Linked DNA regions of Homo sapiens: region 2 is linked to region 1. Evidence: fine-mapped expression QTL. A gene starts in region 1. The other region holds a variant in brackets. All regions are shown on one strand. Distances are from middle to middle.

Region 1 (9,860 bases):
ACCTAACATCACCCCACACAGCGCTGGGGTTCTAGCTCTGGTTGGATCCCAGTGCCTTGGGGCTTATCCCCTACACACTTGCTGGACTACAAGCTCATGATGGCAGAGACTGGGGTTGTCATGGTTATGATTATGTCCCCAGCACATGGCCTGGCACACGACAGACGCTCCAGAAACATTCTTTGATGCTTGGACTGAAGAATGTTAGTTGGGATTTTTTTAATAGTAATTTTTTTTTTTTTTGAGACAGGATCTCACTCTGTTGCCCAGGCTGGAGTGCAGAGGTGTGATCTTGGCTCACTGCAACCTCTGCCTCCCAGGCTCAAGCAATCCTCCTGCTTTAGCCTCCCGAATAGCTGGAAAACAGGCATATACCACCACATCTAGCTAGTTCTTTTTTCCTTTTAGTAGAGATGAGGTCTCACTGTGTTGCCCAGGGTGGTCTCAAATTTCTGGGCTCAGGCAATCCTCCCACCTCAGCCTCCCAAAGTGCTGGGATTATAGGCATAAGCCACCACACCTGGCCCCTTAATCATAAACATAATATCTTCTCTCTCTGTTTTATGTTAGATCCGGGCCGGGCACAGTGGCTCATGCTTGTAATCCCAGCACTTTGGGAGGCTGAGGTGGGTGGATCACCTGAGGTCAGGAGCTCAGAACCAGCCTGGCCAACATAGTGAAACCCACTCTCTACTAAAAAAAAAAATTAGCCGGGCGTGGTGGCGTGCGCTTGTAGTCCCAGCTACTTGGGAGGCCGAGGCAGGAGAATCACTTGAACCCGGGAGGCTGAGGTTGCAGTGAACTGAGATCTCGCCACTGCACTTCAGCCTAGGCAACAGAGTGAAACTCCGCACTGCACGCCCTCCAAAAAAAAAAAAAAAGTTAGATCCAATGGTTTATCTGGGCTTTCTCGGATTTTTTTCACAATGGTCTCAGCTTATATGCCCCTTCCTCCAGGAAGCCCTCTCTGATACCCTGTGTCTGGCCAGTGACCTCCTTCTGGGCTCACACATCCTCCTGACCACTCTGAACTGTGACTGTCGGCTGATTGGTCTGTCTCTTTCATGGGCCTGGGAGCTCCATGAGTGTCTTGGTCACTGCTGTTTCCCCAGCAAAGCTAACATAGGACCAAATACATGGTAGGGGCTTAGGGAGTGATTTTTGTCTCATTAGAAGAATAGGATAGCACACCTGTAATCCCAGCACTTTGGGAGGCTGAGGCAGGAGGATCACTTGAGCCCAGGAGTTCAAGACCAGCCTGGGCAAGATAGCAAGACCCCATCCCTACCAAAAAAAGAAAAAGAAAGAGAACACAATTTTAAAAAAAGGACAGGATGGTGAGAAGGAAGGAAGGAGGAAAGGGAGAAAGGAAGCTGAGCCTTTACGGTCAGAGAGGATTTCAAAATTAAGGGAGAAGGAAGCACGGGTATGCTGGGCAGTGGGAACGGCTTGAGCAATGCGTGGAGGCAGGACAACAGAAGAGTGTTCAAGGAACAGTGTGTACTCAGGCCTAGTTACAGCAGAGGGGGTCAGGAGGAGGGAAGGAAGTCGATTCTGGGAAGGCGCCTGGAGACCGGAGGCTCCAAACGCAGCACTGAGCCCCTGACTGCTCTCAGAGAGGGCACCTGAGCAGACAAAGCTGGGCCATGGAGGCAGATTCTGGAAGGATGAGAAAAAAACTGGAGATAGGGAGGCCTGGGAGGGAGACAAGTTAGGAACAGATCTACACACTGGAGGGTTTAAACGATGGGTTTGAAACTCAGCCAGAACTGAGTTAGAATCCTGGCTCTGACTTGACGTGGCCAACCCTAAGCAAAGAATCTCTCACCTCTCTATGCCTCAGCTTCCCCATCTGTTGTTTTTGTTTTTTTTTTTTTGAGACCGAGTCTTGCTCTGTCACCCAGGCTGGAGTGCAGTGGTGCAATCTCGGCTCACTGCAACCTCCGCCTCCCACATTCAAGCGATTCTCCTGCCTCAGCCTCCCAAGTAGCTGGGATTACAGGTGCCCGCCATCACACGCCTGGCTAATTTTTGTATTTTAGTAGAGACAGGGTTTCATCATGTTGGCCAGGCTGGTCTTGAACTCCTGACCTTAGGTGATCCCCCTGCCTCGGCCTCCCAAAGTGCTGGGATTACAGGCTTGGGCCACTGAGCCTGGCCCCCATCTGTTGAATGGAGACAATCTCAGTGCTGTCATAAGGACTCAGAGTTAACACATACAAAGCCCTTAATTAAGATAGATGCTATTTTAAGATAAAAAATGACAGAAAAAAATTGACAAAAAAGACTAAAAAAAAAAAAGAAGAAAAAACTTAAAACAGTGTCTGGTGTACAGTAAGGATTAGAATTATTTGATCTGCATCTTGCAAGGTGATATCCTTGGACAAGTGACTTGAATTCTCTGTGCCTCAGTTTCCTCATCTGTAAAAGGGGATAATAATAGTATCTACCTCAGCCGGGTGCAGTGGCTCATGCTGGTAATTCCAGCACTTCGGGAGGCTGAGGCGGGTGGATCACTTGAGGTCAGGAGTCTTGAGGTCAGCCTGGCCAACATGATGAAACCCTGTCTCTACTCAAAATACAGAAATGAGCCAGGTGTGGTGGCGGGCACCTGGTGTCTCACCTACTCAGGAGGCTGAGGCAGGACAATCACTTGAACCCAGGAAGTGAAGGCTGCAGTGAGCCGAGATGGCACCACTGCACTCCAGCCTGGGCAACAGAGCGAGACTGTCTCAGAAAAAAAAAAAAAGTATCTACCTCATTAGGGTTGCTGCGAGGAGTGAGTGAGTTAATAAAAGCACAGCACTTAGCACAGGGCTAAACATGAGTGAGTGCTAATTGTTGTTGTTATTATTATTATTATTATTATTATTATTCACCCACTTCCAGCTCAGCTGTTCTGAGATGCCAAGGAAGTGAGAGGGCAGGCAGAGAGAAAAAAGCAATGGGGCCCAGGAGGGTCAGCCCCTGCACACAGGCACAGGCACGTCAAGGCAGGTCTGTCTCTCACAGCTAGGGCCACATGTGTGAACACGTCCCCAAGGAAGGCATGTGGGGTGAAGCGGGGCTCAGGGCAGACTCCAGCCAGGGGCCCCAGAGCAAAAAGAGGCCTCAGCAGGCAAGCTGGCAAGCTGATGGACTCCGGACTCGGCTCCCAGCCCCACGGCTCCCAGCCCCACGTGAGGCTCTCCAGTTTCACACCGGCCTCTGCTCTGTCCCGCCCTCCCTGAACCTGCCCGGCCGGTCCTCCTGATTCACCAGGGGAGAGCCACACCCAAGCTGGGGGTGACGGTGGACAAAGTAAACAAGAGTGTTCAGGGGGCTCCTTGGGGATGTAGGGGTCACAGGGGAGACCAGGTGGGCTCCCGGCTAGGCCAAGGATCCTTTGGCGTTTGGGGTCACACAGCCCTTTTGCGAATCTGATGCAAGCTGGGGGAATCGCTTTGCTCCCTAGAAAAATGTACATACAAATAGGCTAAGGGGTGGTGAAGGTTTGTGACCCTTTAAGACAGCCACAGGCCCCAGATTAAGAAATGTGGGGTAGAAAGTGCACCCTGCCTGTCTCCCTATCCCAGTGTTCTTCAGATTCCAGAGGATTAGACAGATGTCAGACCGTCGCTGCAACAATGTATGTGAACACGCACGGCAGGCTCCTTAGTCCTACAATTTCAGGGGTTCCTGGGCCCCATAAAGTCGGTCAGTGGCCCTCCATTGTAGACCCCCAGGAGTGGAGACAGTGCAGGAAGGGGAAAGGAGAGAATTAAGAAGGGGTGCCTGGAGTGAATTAGTAACCTGGCTGTCAGAGGGAGGAGGTCAGTGGATGGAAGAGGTTCCCGGAGATGAAATTGCTGGTGGGCAACTAACAGTAAATGGGTAGAGAACTTCCTAAGCAAAGGCGGAGGAATAAGGAGTTTTGCGTGATGTGGCTCAAGGGCAGGATGGGTCCCACTCACCCCAGACCTGTCCTCGGGATCGCTGGCACCTCCGCCCCCGGCCACCACGTCATCCTCAGACTCGTCGAAAGAAGAGGCAGAGGAGAAGCCGCCGCTGCCCCCCTCAACCCGGGAGGGGGGTCCCACTGGCTGGGCCTCAGGCTCAGGGGTCTCAGGGGTAATGATGAGGCGGGGCACAGGGCACAGGGGGCTACACTTCAGGTGAGAGTACAGGTGAGTCAGCAATTCTCCAGGCTCTGGTTCCTCTAATGGGCCATCCTCAGGCTCTCCCAAGAGGCAGTCTGTCCCAGGTGCTGTCTGGGAACCGTCAGTGCTAGGTTGTGTCCAGGAGCCATCAGTATCCTGTTGTATTTGGAAACCACCAGTGCCAGGCTGTTTCCTGGCTGCTTCAGTATCCTGTTTTTTCTGGGAGCCATCAGTATATGGCTCTGTCCAGGGACCTTCAATATCCTGTTGTGTCCTGGAGCCATCAGTATACAATTCTTTCCAGGAGCCATCAGCACTTGGCTCTTTTGAGGGACAGGCTCCTTCTGGGTGAGTCTGGAGGCTGGAACTGTTCTGGTGGGTCCAGAGGTTATCAGCCCAGGACTTGACCCTCTCTGGCTGAGTCTGTGACCCATGCGTTTCCAGCTCTGTCCAGGGCCCATGAACCCCTGGCTGTGTCCAGGGGCTGGCCTCCTCGGGCTGAAACTGGAGGTCGGACCTGTGCGGATCAGTCCAAAGGCCATCTGTCCCGGTCTCCGTCCAAAGACAAGTCGTCTCCAGCTCTGACCAGCTCCATTCTAGATGCGTCCGGAGGCTGGACCTGTCTGGCTCCGTCTTTTGCTTGGGCCTCTCGGTCTCTACTCCAAGGCCAGCTGCCGCGGGCTCAGTCTGTCCGTCTGTCCAGAATTCTGCCTGCGGACTCTCTGTCCCCGGCGCAGGCCCGAGGCCGGCCCTCTCAGGCTCGCTGTGGAGGCTGGACCCCTCTGTCCGGGCCCAGGGCCCGCCCCCCTCCGGCCGCCCCGCCGGGGCCCCTGCGCCGGGCCCAGGTCGCTGCTGTCCCGGCTGCCGCCGCCGCCCTCCTCGCGGCGCCTCCAGTCCCATGCGGGCCGCCGCGGGCAGCGCCCCGGCCTCCGCCTCGTTCAGGCTCCCACGGCACGGGCAGCGCCTCATGCCCGCTCCTTCGGTTCGGGCTTCGGCCGACCCGGCCCCTCCTATCCCTTTAAATCCCGCGAGGGGTGTGGCTGGGGAGCCCCGACTCCCGGGTTCCGGCCCGCGGAGCTCCAGCCCGCCCCGCCGCGCAAGGGTTAACCGATACTCCCCTCAAAGGGGAAAGCCCCGAAGCCCCGCCCCACCGGACGTGACGGAACGGAACGAGACGGAGCCTTGTCCGACTCCGCCTCCCAAGGGGAGGGGGTTTGCCTCTGAGCATCCGAAGCGCGGCCAGGTATGCATCTAGGGCACCGGGGTCCTGGTGGCGCGCCAGTGGGCCCCCTCCCTCCACCCCTGTGACTAAACCACCCTCCCTACACGGTTGAATGACAAGTTCAACCTTCCCTAAAACCCCCGGTGACGAGTCCAGCCGCGCGCCCATTCTTCACGCAGGGGCGGGACGGACTTTCAAAGACTTGGAGTTCCCACGGGTGTGGGTTCGAGACCTTCCTCTGCCAGTTCCCAGCTCCGCTACCCTGAGCAAATGACTTACGCTCCATTGGATTTTCCGTAAGAAATCTCTGTCATGTATAGAGTACTTGTTCTGTATCAGACCCTGACACGATTTCAGTTCATTCTCCAAGGCTGAACAATAGGGATGCCAGGGCTCCATTTTACACGTGAGAACAGAGGCTCAGAGATCTGCCGGCCTCTACCCTTTGCTTGCAGCTACGGGGCTATCTGACATGATCTCATGTATGTGAAGCATGTGGCCCCGGGCCTGGCACTGTCAGTTGTAGCCCAGTAGGATTATTTATTGTCCTAGGTGATTTTGATATATTTTGCCCCCAAGGCTGAGCTGCCACCCAGCTCCTGAGTCAGCCGTTCACCTCTGAAGGGGGAGAGGAGGTGGTTTGTCTTGAAATTGAGTCAACTGGGGGAGACATTGGGCACAGGTCCAAGGCTCTAAAATGAGTCACCTTTTCACAGACCAATGAGAGAAATCGAAGGCAGGAGCCCACCTAGTACCTCATACAGGTTGGGAAGGAGAAGTCCAGAGAGGGATGAGGGCTTTTCTGAGGTCACACAGTACGGGAATAGAGACAAAGAGGCCTGATTCCCGACAAGAGGGGTTGGGGCAGCGGGGTTCTGTGGGGGAAGCATCGGCATCCCTCCCTCTCCCAGTGGTGGGAAAGATGCCCCAACCAGATGCCTCTATTCCAGACTGTGAGAAGTGGGTGAGTCAGCCTGTTGTGGGGAGAGCAGGCTTTCCAACGCGCGCGCGCACACACACACACACACACACACACAGAGAAAGAAAGATAGGATGGGAGGTGGTTTTCTGGGATGCCAAGGTTCCTGACTCAGCACTGGGAATCTTGGCTGAGTGTGTTCTGGGAAATGTCAGGCCTACAGGAAGCAGAGGGCTCCCAGTCGCACCATTCCGCAGGTGGGCGGGGAGCGGAGAGAACAGGGTGTGTGAGGGAACAGAGACTCAGTGTGCAAGTGGGGGGGAGGGTATGTACACGAGAGAGTTGAAGGCGTGAGCGGGAAACAGTTGGCAAGCAAGGCAAGGGATTTATATGCACAAGGAAGGAGGTTGGGTGCCAGAATGTGGGTGTTTGTGCAAAGTGGAGGGGCTCCATGTGCAAGGGAAATGTTTGCTGGGAAGAATGTGTATTCAAAGGAATTGTGTTGAGCCTGCCAGGGGTAAAAATAAGAAGGGGGGTTGGCAAGATATTCGTGCAGAAGAGAGGCGTCAGGTTTGTAAGGGAGACTTTGCAAGAAAGTGTAGGGAACAGAAGGGTCTGTCGCGTACAAGGCACTTTGAGGTGAGTGGAAGGGCAGACAGGGCACGCTTGCGCTCCCGCGATGCCTCAGCAATCCCCCCAGATGGGCCCCCGATGCCCACCTTAATTCCAGGCTCCATCGCTAGGGCCTCTCTCTGGCCCCTTCCCCCGCGCACAGATGGAGAAACTCCGTGCCAGTCAGCGAGTTGCTGCCGCGCCATTGGTTGGCTGGCCGAAGGGGGCGGGCATACAGAGGCTCCCGGAAGCACAGGAGGGCCCCAGCAGGTTGCGGACTCGGAGGCTGAGAGCAGTGGGTGCTTAGCAACGGGGGGAGGTGCTCAGTAACGGGGTGGGGATCGGGCGGGGGGACACCGGAGGAATTGCGGGTGCCTACAGGGCCAACAGAGGGGAAGGCGGTGCATAGCAACGAGGGGGGTTTCAGAGAAGTGGAGAGGTAGCCCCTGAGGAACTGTGGGTGTCTAGTAACGGGGGCGGACCCTAGCAACGGCGAGGGTTGGGAGAGGGGGGAAAGTGGGTTTTGGGAGGCCTGCAGGAAGAGCTAAGGGTTCCTAGCAACCAGGGGAGAACCAGGAGAAACTGTGGGAATCTATTAATAGTGGAGGAAGTATTTAGTGGGTGGGAATGAGAGAGGGTGGACACAGAGGAACATGGGGGCCTGGCCAAGAAGCCAGGCAACTCCCACCTGAATAATCCCTCCTCTTCTCCTCCAGGCAATGTGGCTGAAGGTGGGGGGCCTACTTCGGGGGACCGGTGGACAGCTGGGCCAGACTGTTGGTTGGCCTTGTGGGGCCCTGGGGCCTGGGCCCCACCGCTGGGTAAGAGGCTAGGGAGCAGGTCCCCAAGGGGAAGAGGCTGAGGGAGACTTCAGAGGGTAAAAGGACAGGAGGGGTCCAGAAGGGCCAGGTGATCCCATGTCCTCCCCTCCTTATCAAAGTATATCTCTTGCAGGGACCATGTGGAGGTTCTTGGGCCCAAAAGTTTTACCAGGATGGGCCTGGGAGAGGCCTGGGTGAGGAGGACATTCGCAGGGCACGGGAGGCCCGTCCCAGGAAGACACCCCGGCCCCAGGTATCATTACCCCCACCCACCCAGCAACACCCCACGAATACTGCTGGCCCCCTGAGCTTGGGGAAGGGTGTGGTGGCAGAGTGGCTGCACTCTCTGGCCACGATGCCCACTTTCCCACCCTCAGACCTTGTCCCCATTTCCCAGCTGAGTGACCGCTCTCGAGAACGCAAGGTGCCTGCCTCCCGCATCAGCCGCTTGGCCAACTTTGGGGGTAGGTGTGACTTTGGGGGATCTTGGTGTGACCTCAATTAGAAAGGGCAACATTTACAGATTGAAGCAAGGGAGAGGATGAATCAGAGACAGGAAAGAGAGAGAGACAAAAAAAGAGAGACAAAGGCAAGGGCCTGCAAGGCCAAGAGAAATCAAGAGGAACATAAATGATAATTTTTTTTTTTTTTTTTGAGACAGAGTCTCACTTTGTCACCCAGGCTGGAGTGCAGTGGCGCGATCACTGCAGCCTCAAACTTCTGGGCTCAAGCAATTCTCTCGCCTCAGCCTCCTGAGTAGCTGGGACCACAGTTGTGCACCATCCGCCCGGGTAATTTTTTTTTTTTTTTCCTTTGAGACAGAGTCTCGCTCTGTTGCCCAGGCTGGAGTGCAGTGGCACCGTCTTGGCTCATTGCAACCTCTGCCTCCTACATTCAAGCAATTCTCCTGCCACAGCCTCCTGAGTAGCTGGGATTACAGGTGCCTGCCACTATGCCTGGCTATTTTTTTTTTTTTTTTTTTGAGACGGAGTATCCCTCTGTCACCCAGGCTGGAGTGCAGTGGCGCCATCTTGGCTCACTGCAACCTCCACCTCCCGGGTTCAAGCCGATTCTCCTGCCTCACACTCCCAAGTAGCTGGGATTACAGGCATGCATCCACCACACCCGGCTAATTTTTGTATTTTTAGTAGAGACGGGGTTTCACCATGTTTGTCAGGCAGTGGTAGAGCTTTGGCACCAGGCTGCCCAGGGTTCAAGGGATGACTCTGCTATGTCCTCGCTTTGTGATCCGCCTGCCTCAGCCTTCCCAAGTGCTGGGATTACAGGCGTGAGCCACCACACCTGGCCGCCTGGCTAATTTTTGTACTTTTAGTAGAGACAGAATTTCACCATGTTGGCCAGGCTGGTCTTGAACTCCTGACCTCAAGTGATCCACCCACTTCGGCCTCCCAAAGTGTTGGGATTTACAGATGTGAGCCACGGTGCCCGGGAAGCCACTGTGCCTGGCCTGGGTAATTTAAAAAATATTTTTTTGTAGAGATAGGGTCTCCCTATGTTGCTCAAGTTGGTCTCAAGCGATCCTCCTGCCTCGGCCTCCCGAAGTGCTGGGGTTCTAGGCATGAGCCACTGCTCCTGGCCATAATAACATTTACTGAGAACCTGTAATGTGCAGTGTCCCATATACACACATGCTGCACTGAATCAATGAGTGTTCTATTCCGTACATGAGGACATTGAGGCTAACAAAGGGGAGGTCACTTGACTTTGGGTTACACAGCCGGATGTCGTGCAAGTCACATGAAATAATTTAGTGGGTTGCAACCAGCATTTAAAAAGAAGAATAGGACAGAAAATATGCATGCACCTGTAGAGCAAGGGAAAGTCTTGTTTCGTGAAACATATACCTTGGTCTGCACTGGTTATAACGTAAATGTCTTCTTATTGCTGATCATGGTTCAAGTTTTGTTTTTGTTTTTGTTTTTGAGATGGAGTCTTGCTCTGTCACCCAGACTGGAGTGCAGTGGCATGATCTCAGCTCACTGCAACCTCCACCTCCCAGGTTCAAGCAATTCTCCTGCCTCAGCCTCCTGAGTAGCGGGGGTTACAGATGCACGCCACCACGTCCAACTATTTTTTGTTGTTTTTTTTTTTTTTTTTCTTAGGGAGACAGGGTTTCACCATGTTGG
Region 2 (9,860 bases), 28 kb after region 1:
GTGACGAGGCTGCAGCAAATCACTGCGGATTTTAGAGGCTGCGCTCTACAGCTCGTACTGTATCCAGGTGCCCTGCGGAGCCGTGGAAAAGATTTGAGCAGGGAAGGGATGCAGTCAGAATTTGAAAACTCCCTCTGAATAAGAAGTGGTCTCTAAGCCTGGGGGTGGGAGCTCAGGGCAGCTGTGGAGAGGGGCAGAGGGGTGGCTGGGAGATGCCCAGCTGGCAGTCCATGGGAGCAGACGGGCTAGAAGTTGGGGACAGAGGTGTCTAGGGGTCTGGTCTGGGGACTGGTGGGGCCACCTCTGAGACAGGAACAGGAAGAGGAGGTGATAACCCCTTACACACAGGCCCCTTGGGGCCCTCTCTGCCGGCCACTGAGGCACAAAGCTGAGACCCTTCTTCTCCCCACTGACACCCTCCCCTCCCACCCAGGCCTGCAGCCTTTGCCACTTTATAAAAGCCCTGGCTTCTGAGGACCACAGGCCTGACAGATGGCCAGACATGCTCGGGCAGGGGGAGCAGAGAGGGAATGGAATTAATCCCGAATCCCCCTCCTCACAAAAAAGGGCAACCCAGTAGTGAGTGGTGTGACCCGGTTCCACTCCCTACTCCGGGTCTGCTTCCCCTTCTGTGAAATAGGGACCCCCGTGCCCACCTCTTAATAATGGTAGATTATAGTATTTACGGTGCTTCCTGCATGAGACACAGCGCCAGGCAGGCCACAGGCATCACCTTCTTTATCCTCCCAACAGCCCCATGAGGAAGGCACTTTTGGCATCCCCACTTCACAGATGAGAAAGTGGAGGCCCAACAGGCCGGCAGGTGGCAGAGCTGGGACGGAACCCTAGCCAGCTGGCCCCAGCTGGGCATCTCTCCATGCCCACAACTCCTGCCCTGTGTGTGTGAGCTCATGGCTGGAGAGCTGCTCTGCTCCACACGCTCATTTGCTAAAGCAAGGTTCACCCAGGGCCTCCTCAGCACCAGACCCTGTGCCCCGTGCGACTAAACCCAACTGGGATCCTTGCTCTCACGGGGCTCAAAGTCCAGTGTGGGAGACAGAGAGATGGCCCCTGGCAACTTTGGATGCAGTTCTGGGTCACGCTCATACCCGTCCAGTTGAGTGTTTGGACTCACCAGCAGCCCTGACACTTGTTTCTTGCACTGTTTCACTGTGGCAGTTCCCGGGCAGGCCCCACATTGCCCTCTAGGTGGGCAGGATCCCTAACCACCTCCACTCCCAGGCTCTGGAAGAGTCTTTAAGGGAGTCACAGACAGGCAAAGTTGGGAGCAGGAAGCTTCCAGGTGAGGGAGGGCCCAGGCAGATGAGAATGGAGGTGGGTACATGGGAGGCCCAGGCTTCCAGCTCCTCTTCTCCAGAGCCCCCTTGAGCCCCGGCCTTTGTCCCTCTAACTCCCACCCGTCTCCCCAGGTGGTGAAGGCTGCAGCTGATGGAGACAGAGACTGTGTCCTGCAGAAGTCCAGGGACCTCAAATTCCTCACAGGCTTTGAAACCAAGGTGGGGAGACACTGGGGGAGAAAGGGGCTGGTGTCTGTTGGTGGGGTGCAGTGGGGGGCTGCTTATCTCCACTGAGGAACTCGAGTAGGTGATGGGGCATGTCGATACCCGGGGACTGGGGGACTCTAGGAGGGGCTTGTCTCCACTAGGGAGAATGGAGGCTGTGTGTCTATACCTGGGGAGTGGGTGACTCTAGGAGGGATGCTTATCCATGCTGGGGGCTTTGGGGAGGAGTGGGGGGAGGTGGCTGCCTGACTTCTCAGGAACCCTGGGAACATGGGCACCGTGGATCTGTTCAGGAGGGGCGAAGGCCGCTTCTCTGTTGTAGAGAGAGTAGAGGGCTACTTGTCTGTTGGAGGCTCTGCAGGGAAGTAAGGGGTGCTTACTCGGGGAATAGGCAGCTGCTTGTCTAGTCCAGGCTCTGGAAGGAGTGGAAGCTGCTCACTCTTGGGGGAGTCGGGGCTTGTGTTGATGGTGGAGACTGGAGGGAGTGGAGGCTACACGTTGTTTCTGGGTTATGCAGAGGGCTCTATGTCCACACTGGCTGCCTTTGCTCTCCCCCCACCCCCACTCCCAGGCATTCTCCGACGCCCACGTGGAGGCAGTGATGATCCTGGGGGAGCCTTTCGCCACCCAGGGCCCTTATGACTTTGGGTCGGGGGAAACGGCCCGCCGCATACAGGACCTCATCCCGGTGCTGCTGCGGCACCGGCTGTGTCCCCCACCCGAGGAGACCTATGCCCTGCACCGCAAGCTGGCAGGGGCTTTCCTGGCCTGTGCCCACCTCCGAGCCCACATCGCCTGCAGGGACCTCTTCCAGGACACCTACCACCGCTACTGGGCCAGTCGCCAGCCAGACGCAGCCACTGCCGGCAGCCTCCCCACCAAAGGGGACTCCTGGGTGGATCCCTCATGACAGCCTCCATGGGGGATTCAGTCCCCAGAGCAGGCCGTACCCTGCTGTAGTGCCTCTTATCCCTTCCCCGTCTGCCCTGGGTCAGAGGAGCCCCCTTGGGCTTCCCAGTCTTGCCTGGCTCTCCTCCTTGGCCCAGGAGCTCAGGATCCCTGGGGCTGGGGAACTCCCAACTTCGTGCCCTAGATCCTGCACCTCCCCACTCGAAAGTGGGTATCCGAAAACTAAGCCAGGGAAGCGGTTAACTTATCTTTGCCAACATTTGAGGGAGCCTTGGGCCGCTGCATGTCGTTATGCAGATCAGACTCATCAGGGGGAGCCCTCACCTCTGCCTCAAGCCTCCCGTGGAAGGCGAGATGGTCCTGGAGGCAGTCCTCACCTCTGCCTCCCTCGCTCCTCCAACAGCTGCCTTCTCCCGGGTTCCAGCCTCTCAGTGTGTTGGAGAGGTAGGGGTGCGGGGTGGGGGGGAGCTGAATCTTCAATCGGAATAAAAGCAGCCCTCCCCTTCCCCCAGCTCTTTTCTCTGCGCTAGGGTTGGGGGGAGAGGGGGAGGAGCTCGCCAGCGGCCTCCAGGTGCAGATGGCCAGCCCCCCTGCACCCCCTTGTCTGAAAGCCTCAGCCCTGCCTGTGCCATCTGTTGCCGGGAACCTCCTTCTCGCCTTCCCCACCCCCCCCCACGTGCTGACCACCTGCTCTAAGGGCTGTGGCAGCTGAGGCCTCCCACACACACAGTGCCTCTTGGCTGCGGGCTCCCTCCCCTCACTCCTGGCAACCTCGCCTTTACTAATGGGCTCTAATGTCCCTGCCAGCTGCTTTGCCAAACCCACAGGATTGGCGTAGGGGGCGGCGGGGGCGCCGTAGCGGCCAGAACCGCGCCCTGGTCCCACCCCGGCGCCCCCGTTCCCAAAGCCGAACCGATCGCGCATCAGGACGCCTTGGTCTGTTCACACCCCCTCCCCTTCCTTGCAAAAAGTGCCTCGTCACCGCTCCTGCCCGCCCCCGCCGGGCTGGGGAACCATGGGGTTAGCGGGAAGATTTGGGGGTGTGGGGCGGCAAGGCGCCTCTAGAAGCAACTCTTTCGGACGCGGAGCTGGAGGGGATCTGAGGTCAGGTGTCACGGAGGGAAAGGGAGCCCAGGCCAGGACGGACCGGGGGAAAGGACTCGGCGATGTTCATAGGCATGCTCAGCTCGGGACTGGCCAATGGGCGTGGCGGGGCGGTGGCCGCGCCGGGGAAGGCGGGATGGTGTCTGCGTGTGGGCGGGGTCTTCAGGCCAAGGGGCGGGGCGGGGCGGGACCTTTCTGCATATACGGCAGGCGGCGGGCCAATGGGCGGGGTCGGGGCGGGGAGCCGAGGCCGAGGGACGCTCCCCCGCCCCCGGAACGGAATCCTCCCGGGAGCCGAGGAGGCTCGCGCGCGTGCATCCCGCACCATCCCCCGGCCCCGGGCCCTGGCCGGCGTCAGACCGAGCTGCCGCCGCCACCACCGCAGCAGCAGCAGTCGGGGAGCCAGGCCCAGCCAGGGCCGCGGGAGGCGGGGGCGCCCGGGCCCTGGATGTCCCGCAGCGCGGCGGCCAGCGTGAGAAGGGCGGGAGAGGGGGGCTCGGGTCGGGGGCGGCGCCGCTGCTGATGTGGCGGAGGGTGGGAGGCGGCCGCGGCGCCCGGATGGAGAGAGGGTGCCAAGGCTGGAGAGGGTGGTCCCGGGTGGGGGTCCAGGAACAGGCCCAACAAGCCAAAGCCCAGGAGACCGGGGTCTTGGGCACAGACCCCTGGGCCATCTCTTGCCAAGGCCCTGGAAATAGGGATCCTGGACACAGACCCCCCACAAAACCAAGGACAGGGGTACAGAGATTCTAGGTACAACTCCTAGAACTAGATGGGGATGGAGATGGGGTCGGGGACACAGCCCCCGTATCAAACCAAGGCCTCCAGGACGCGATTCCAGACACAATCCCTACCTCTCCCTGCCTAAGGGGGTCTCAGCACAACAACTGCCTAGGTACGGTCTCGAGGATGGGGTCACTGGGTACAGCGTTCCCACCACGCCAAGGCCTAGGGGGACTCCAAGCACAGCCTGCCCCCAGGTCTCAGAGGCACCCTGGGCACAGCATCCCCCCAATCCTTGGGCGGAGTCCCAGGCACAGCCACTTCTCAAAACAAGGTCCCTGTGCCTGGGACTCCACCCCACCCCAGCCTGAATAAAATAAGGACAATTTCAGGCAACCCCCAATCCCTCCACCCCCTGGCTTGGTCATGGGTCCCAGGGCACAGGATCCCTAGGCCACCCCCTTTGTCCCCAGGGCTGCCCAGCTGTCCAAGAGTGGCCCCACCCGCAGACAATGCACCGCTTCCCCCTCCTGGACCTGGCCCTCAGGCTCCAGGATACAGGCTGGGCTGGGGGCGGCTCCCCAGGGACCGGGTGCAGCCCTGTCTGTCTGCAGTGTCTGCGGTGACGGTGACGGCGGCTTTGTGTGTGGTACCTGGGGGGAAGGGGGGAAGCAAGCGATGGGGAGGTGGCTAGGAGTGTGCCCTGTGTTTGTGTGACTGTGGCTGTGTATGTGTGTGTGTGTGTGCACGCGTACGCTGCAGCTGGTGACTGAGGAATCCTGTGTCGTGTGTGTGTGCTTGTGGTGGTGTCTATGATTGTGTCTGTGACCCTAGTATCTGTGTGACTGTGTATGTGTGTGTGACAGCTGCTCACTGTGCAGAATCCTGTACTTTTTAGTCTGTCTGTGTTTGGAGGTGTGCATGGTTGTGACTGTGGTTGTCTGTG[A/G]TTGTGTCTTTTGTGACCCTGTGTTTGTATGCCTCGGTAACTATAACTGGGTATGTGACAGTATGTGTTGAGTCTGGGGGTGGGCATGCGTGTGACTGACAGGACGTGGGTGGAGTTGTGACTGTGTGTGAGTGGAGTTGTCTATGGCTCCATGTGCATGTGTGACCCTCCCAGTGACTGACAATGTTTATAGTTGTGTCTCTACCTGATTTTATATACGTGAGTGACACACACCTGTCTGTGCAACTCTGCCTGTGTGACTGCCATTGTGTCTGAAGTCACATTGTATCTGTGTGACTGGGGTTGTGTGACAGTATTGTGTATGACAGTGGTTGCGTATGCAGAACCATGTCTGAGTGTGTGACTGAGGTTGTATTAATATAAATGACTGTATCTAGCAGTGTGTGTGATAACGAGTGATTGTGTGTATTTCTAGCCTTGCATGTGTGATTTGGGTTATGTATTTGACTTGGTGTCTGAAACCCTGGCTATTTAGAGGGATTATTTGTGTGTGACTAAAGCTGTGGATGTGTCTCCGTGCTGGTGCCAGGAAATTATGTTTGTAGGGGTGTGTATATGATTATGGCTTCCATATTATTGTGTTTGACCTGCATGTCTGACCCTGGGTGACTATAGATGTCTGTGTCTATGTCATCATCTGTGAGAGTGTGGGGTCTGTAGCTGTGTGCCTGTTTTTGTCTCTGTGTGTATGTGCTGGACTACCTGTGTTAGAATGTGTGATTTGGTGATGAGATTGGCCCCTGACTGTGCACATGGCTCCGTCAGGACCTGTGTCTTCTGTGTAAACCCAGCTATAAATGCCACATCCTGGTCACTGCATTTATGTGCATACACTGGACTGTGTACTTGTGACATGGGAAACTAAAACTGTGTGCTTATGTCTCTATGTGTGAGATATGTGTGTAGGTGGGGCTTGTGACTTTGTGCACCTGTCCACACGGGGCTGTGATTCTATATGGCCACATACTTGTCTGTGTGACTTGTGTGCCTGCATGAAGAAAGGCTATATGTTTCGCTGCATTGGAGTGACATGGTACAGCTGTGTATGGACACTGGGTGACGGGATTATGACCATGATAGGTGGCTGGGTCACATGGACATTGATGCTGTGGCCATGCCTATAGGACCACCATGGCTGTGTCTTGAGGGAGGCCATCCTTGGGGACAGTTGTTTGTGGGTGGTTGCATGCTGTGGCCATCAGTACCTCTGTATGTGGTTGTGTATAGAGGACTGTCCCTATGAGTGTGGCTGTCACAATAGACTGTGTGACTGATGCTGTGACCAGATTTGAGCACCTATGACTGAGTATGTGTGACCACGTGACAGTGTGTGGCCAAAAACAGTGTGTTGGTGTGACTGGTCTGGTTGAGGCTGCATGTGGTCTCCGTGGGACCAAATGTGTGTCTGTCCGTGTGCATCTGTGACCAGATGTCAGTGTGCAGCAGTGGAGATACGTGTAACAAGTGTATATAGCTGCGATTGTGTCGTGTGGGACTGGGTCAGCAAATGGGTGAACTCTGGGTGTGATTCTATCTGGGTGGGCCTGTGACGTCAGTATCTTGGGCGGGTGCCTGAGGAAACATAGCTGTCACTGGGTGTGGCCACGCATGTGCGGCTCTAGTGGGTTGTCTGGGCCCCGTTCTTTGTATGTGGCTGAGAATGTGGAAGTGACCAAATTTCAGTGGGTGGTGTGACCAGGTGTCTGCGGTGGGAACTGAGTGGGCCAGGACATGCTGCATGTATGTGGACAAATGTCTGTAGTAGAGACTGTGTGTGTCCGAACATGAATATGCGGCCAGATGTTTACAGTGGCAGCTTTCTGGGTTTGGGACTGTTTCTGTGTATCTGCGATCTGAGGTGTGTAGCTGTGATTGCGTCTATGTGTAACCAAGTGTGTAAAGCTGTGGCCAGATGCTAGGGACACCTGTAGATATGAGTTGGCTGCGTATGTGTGTAGCCCTGCACATGCATCTGGAGGGCAAGGCCACTCTCACAGCATCCCCTTGGGCAGTGAGGCTCTCCTGAGGCCAGCACATCCCCAACATATGCCCCCCAAACATACCTACTCCTTCCTGGGCCCTTGGAACCAGGTGGCTGATCTCCCTGGTAACAGTTGCTAGGACAACTAGGACTCTCATCAGGGAGCCCAAGATGGAGGGGGCTGGCCGAAGTCCAAAGTCGGGGTGAAGTATCAGACTGAGCCCCAACCCAGACAAACTTCTCACCTTCTCCTCCCCTACTCGGGCAGGGCGGACCCCGGAGGCCTGAGCGGCACCTGCCCCCAGCCCCCTGTGGGGCCCCGGGGCCCCCAGAAACCTGCAGGACGGAGCCAGGTGAGCGACCAGCCTGGGACAGGGCAGGGCTGAATGGGTATGTGGTCTTGCCTAACACGACCAGAGGAGCTGTCCCTGCGGTCACACAGGCTTAATCACACTCATGAGTGGACACCCTCAGGCATCTTCCTCAGCGACTGTCAGAGCCCCACTCATGCACAGACCCACACCCTGACACCCTTACAGCCTCAAGTGCAGAGTCACAAACACTCACATCTGTAGATATACGGTTAGAGACACACACACACACACAGATCTCTTTCAGATCACACACACTTGCTAATGCAGTGACACACTTGAACACATGCTGAAGTAGATGTTCATCACACTAATGTACACACATATATACACACACACACATTCCTAGACAACACCCAGATTCACAGGTGACCACAGACGCTCGCTGGATACAGACTCTGAGATACACACTCTCAAGAGACACACTCTTGGCCGGGCGTGGTGGCTCAATGCCTATAATCCCAGCACTTTGGGAGGCTGAGGCGGGAGGATCACCTGAGGTCAGGAGGTCAGGAGTTCGAGACCAGCCTGACCAACATGGAGAAACTCTGTCTGTACTAAAAATACAAAATTAGCCAGGGGTGGTGGCACATGCCTGTAATCCCAGCTACTTGGGAGGCTGAGGCAGGAGAATCGCTTGAACCTGGGAGGCAGAGGTTGCTGTGAGCTGAGATCATGCCATTGCACTCCAGCCTTCATTCGCAACAAGAGCAAAATTTCGTCTCAAAAAAAAAAAAAAGAGACACACTCTTGCACAGTCTGACAACACACACAGACCCACATTTCTACAGACGACAGCCACACTTTCACAGACAGCACCCGCGGGCCCAGGCTCTCACAGGGAGCTACGGTTGTGTACAAACATGCACACAGTCTCACAAAGAACACCCAGCACTCTCTCAGGCAACAGTCACACCCTTACAAATAACCCTCATGAAAACACTCTCAAAGACAACCTCATGTTCCCACACACCCTAACGGATGCACCACTGCACACAGATACACCCTCTGTGCAATACCCACACACCCACACTCTAAGGCAACAGCCACAGTCACACAGGCTCACCGCCAACAGCTGCACTCTTGGACACAGACAGTCTTGTAGATCCCTCAGATGCACTCTCCGAGGCAATGTCATCACAGACAATAGCCACACCTTCACACAGAGACATAGCTACATGGATAACAGCCATGGACACACCCTTTGAAAGACGACAGCCTCATCTCAAACACAGACACACCCTCACAGGCAACAGGCACTGAGCCACAAGTTCTCATAGACAACAACGGCACTCTCGGATATAGACAGCAGACACACACTCACAACCACTCTCAGACATCGATGCCCTTCAGCAACAACCTTCAGGGCCTCAGACTCACAGACAACAACCACACTTTTGGATGCATCCCTCACGGACAGCATTCACAGATGCACACTATCCTACACCATTCTCAGACATGCGTTCTTCCAGACAGCCTTCAGAAACACACTCACAGACATTACTTGCCTGCTCAGATATAGAGCCCCTCATAGACAGCGTTCCAGAACATACCATTGCACACTTGCTTACACACACACACACACACACATCCCCCTCTGCTGTTGGTGCTCCCAGTCCTGGGACTGTCAGGATGGCTGATCAGTGAAGACTGTCCTAGTGGCTGGCCACCTCCACACCCACTCCACACACCCACAGCCCTGCCTCTGACAGTCATCAGTGCAAGGCCCCAGAAGCCTTGCCTGGGGACTAGACACAGTTGTCACAGAATGGCTGTGTCTCAGAGTTCCAGAGACAAGCCACCATCCCCCATACCCCATGCACCTGACTCCTGCACCCCTGACCCATGCAATTCCCAACTCCTCTGCTGCCCTCTGATCACCCCACTGCCTGACTCTCATACCCCTAAAACCCCTGACCGTGCGGCCCCTGACTTCTATGCCCTCTAGCCCCCATGCCCTCCTACGTCTGATTTCCCACCCTTTGTGTCCTCACGGCCCTGGGAATGAGGAAGCATCCACCACATGGACAAGAAGCCCTCCAATGCCCTGAAGCCTGTGCCCCATACCCCCCACCCCAGACCTCCAGCCCCTTAGCCCCATGGTTCTGAATCCCCAGTGCCCAACTTTCGCACTCCCCTGGCTTCTGTTGGCTCCTTTCCTCACTGTCCCCTGACTTGAGCTGCTGATCCCATGTGCGCTGCCAACTGACCCTGTAACCCCGCTTCCAGTTATCTTGTTATCTGACCCCATGCTCCCTGAGCACTGGTCCCTCCCCGTTGAGCTC

The links.
Region 2: its variant is fine-mapped to the expression of COQ8B in cerebellar hemisphere (GTEx, PIP above 0.99). The same link has a PIP of 0.9 or more in cerebellum.

The regions. Positions count from the first base shown.
Region 1 is chr19:40,712,384-40,722,243 of GRCh38, reverse strand. It overlaps COQ8B (coenzyme Q8B), which reads left to right and starts at 5,358. Exons shown (of 15, transcript NM_024876.4): 1 at 5,358-5,657; 2 at 7,609-7,713; 3 at 7,847-7,966; 4 at 8,111-8,177. The coding sequence starts at 7,612. It overlaps ITPKC (inositol-trisphosphate 3-kinase C), which reads right to left and starts at 5,132. Exons shown (of 7, transcript NM_025194.3): 1 at 3,954-5,132. The coding sequence starts at 5,108. RefSeq lists enhancers at 2,607-3,308, 5,812-5,891 and silencers at 4,882-5,241, 6,562-6,611.
Region 2 is chr19:40,684,608-40,694,467 of GRCh38, reverse strand. It overlaps NUMBL (NUMB like endocytic adaptor protein), which reads left to right and starts at 3,817. Exons shown (of 10, transcript NM_004756.5): 1 at 3,817-4,008; 2 at 7,473-7,557. The coding sequence starts at 3,985. It overlaps COQ8B (coenzyme Q8B), which reads left to right. Exons shown (of 15, transcript NM_024876.4): 14 at 1,431-1,517; 15 at 2,095-2,938. The coding sequence ends at 2,433. RefSeq lists silencers at 3,125-3,364, 3,685-4,024 and enhancers at 2,711-3,648, 4,864-4,913, 4,587-5,526, 6,650-6,944. The variant A/G (reference allele first, on the strand shown) is at 5,203.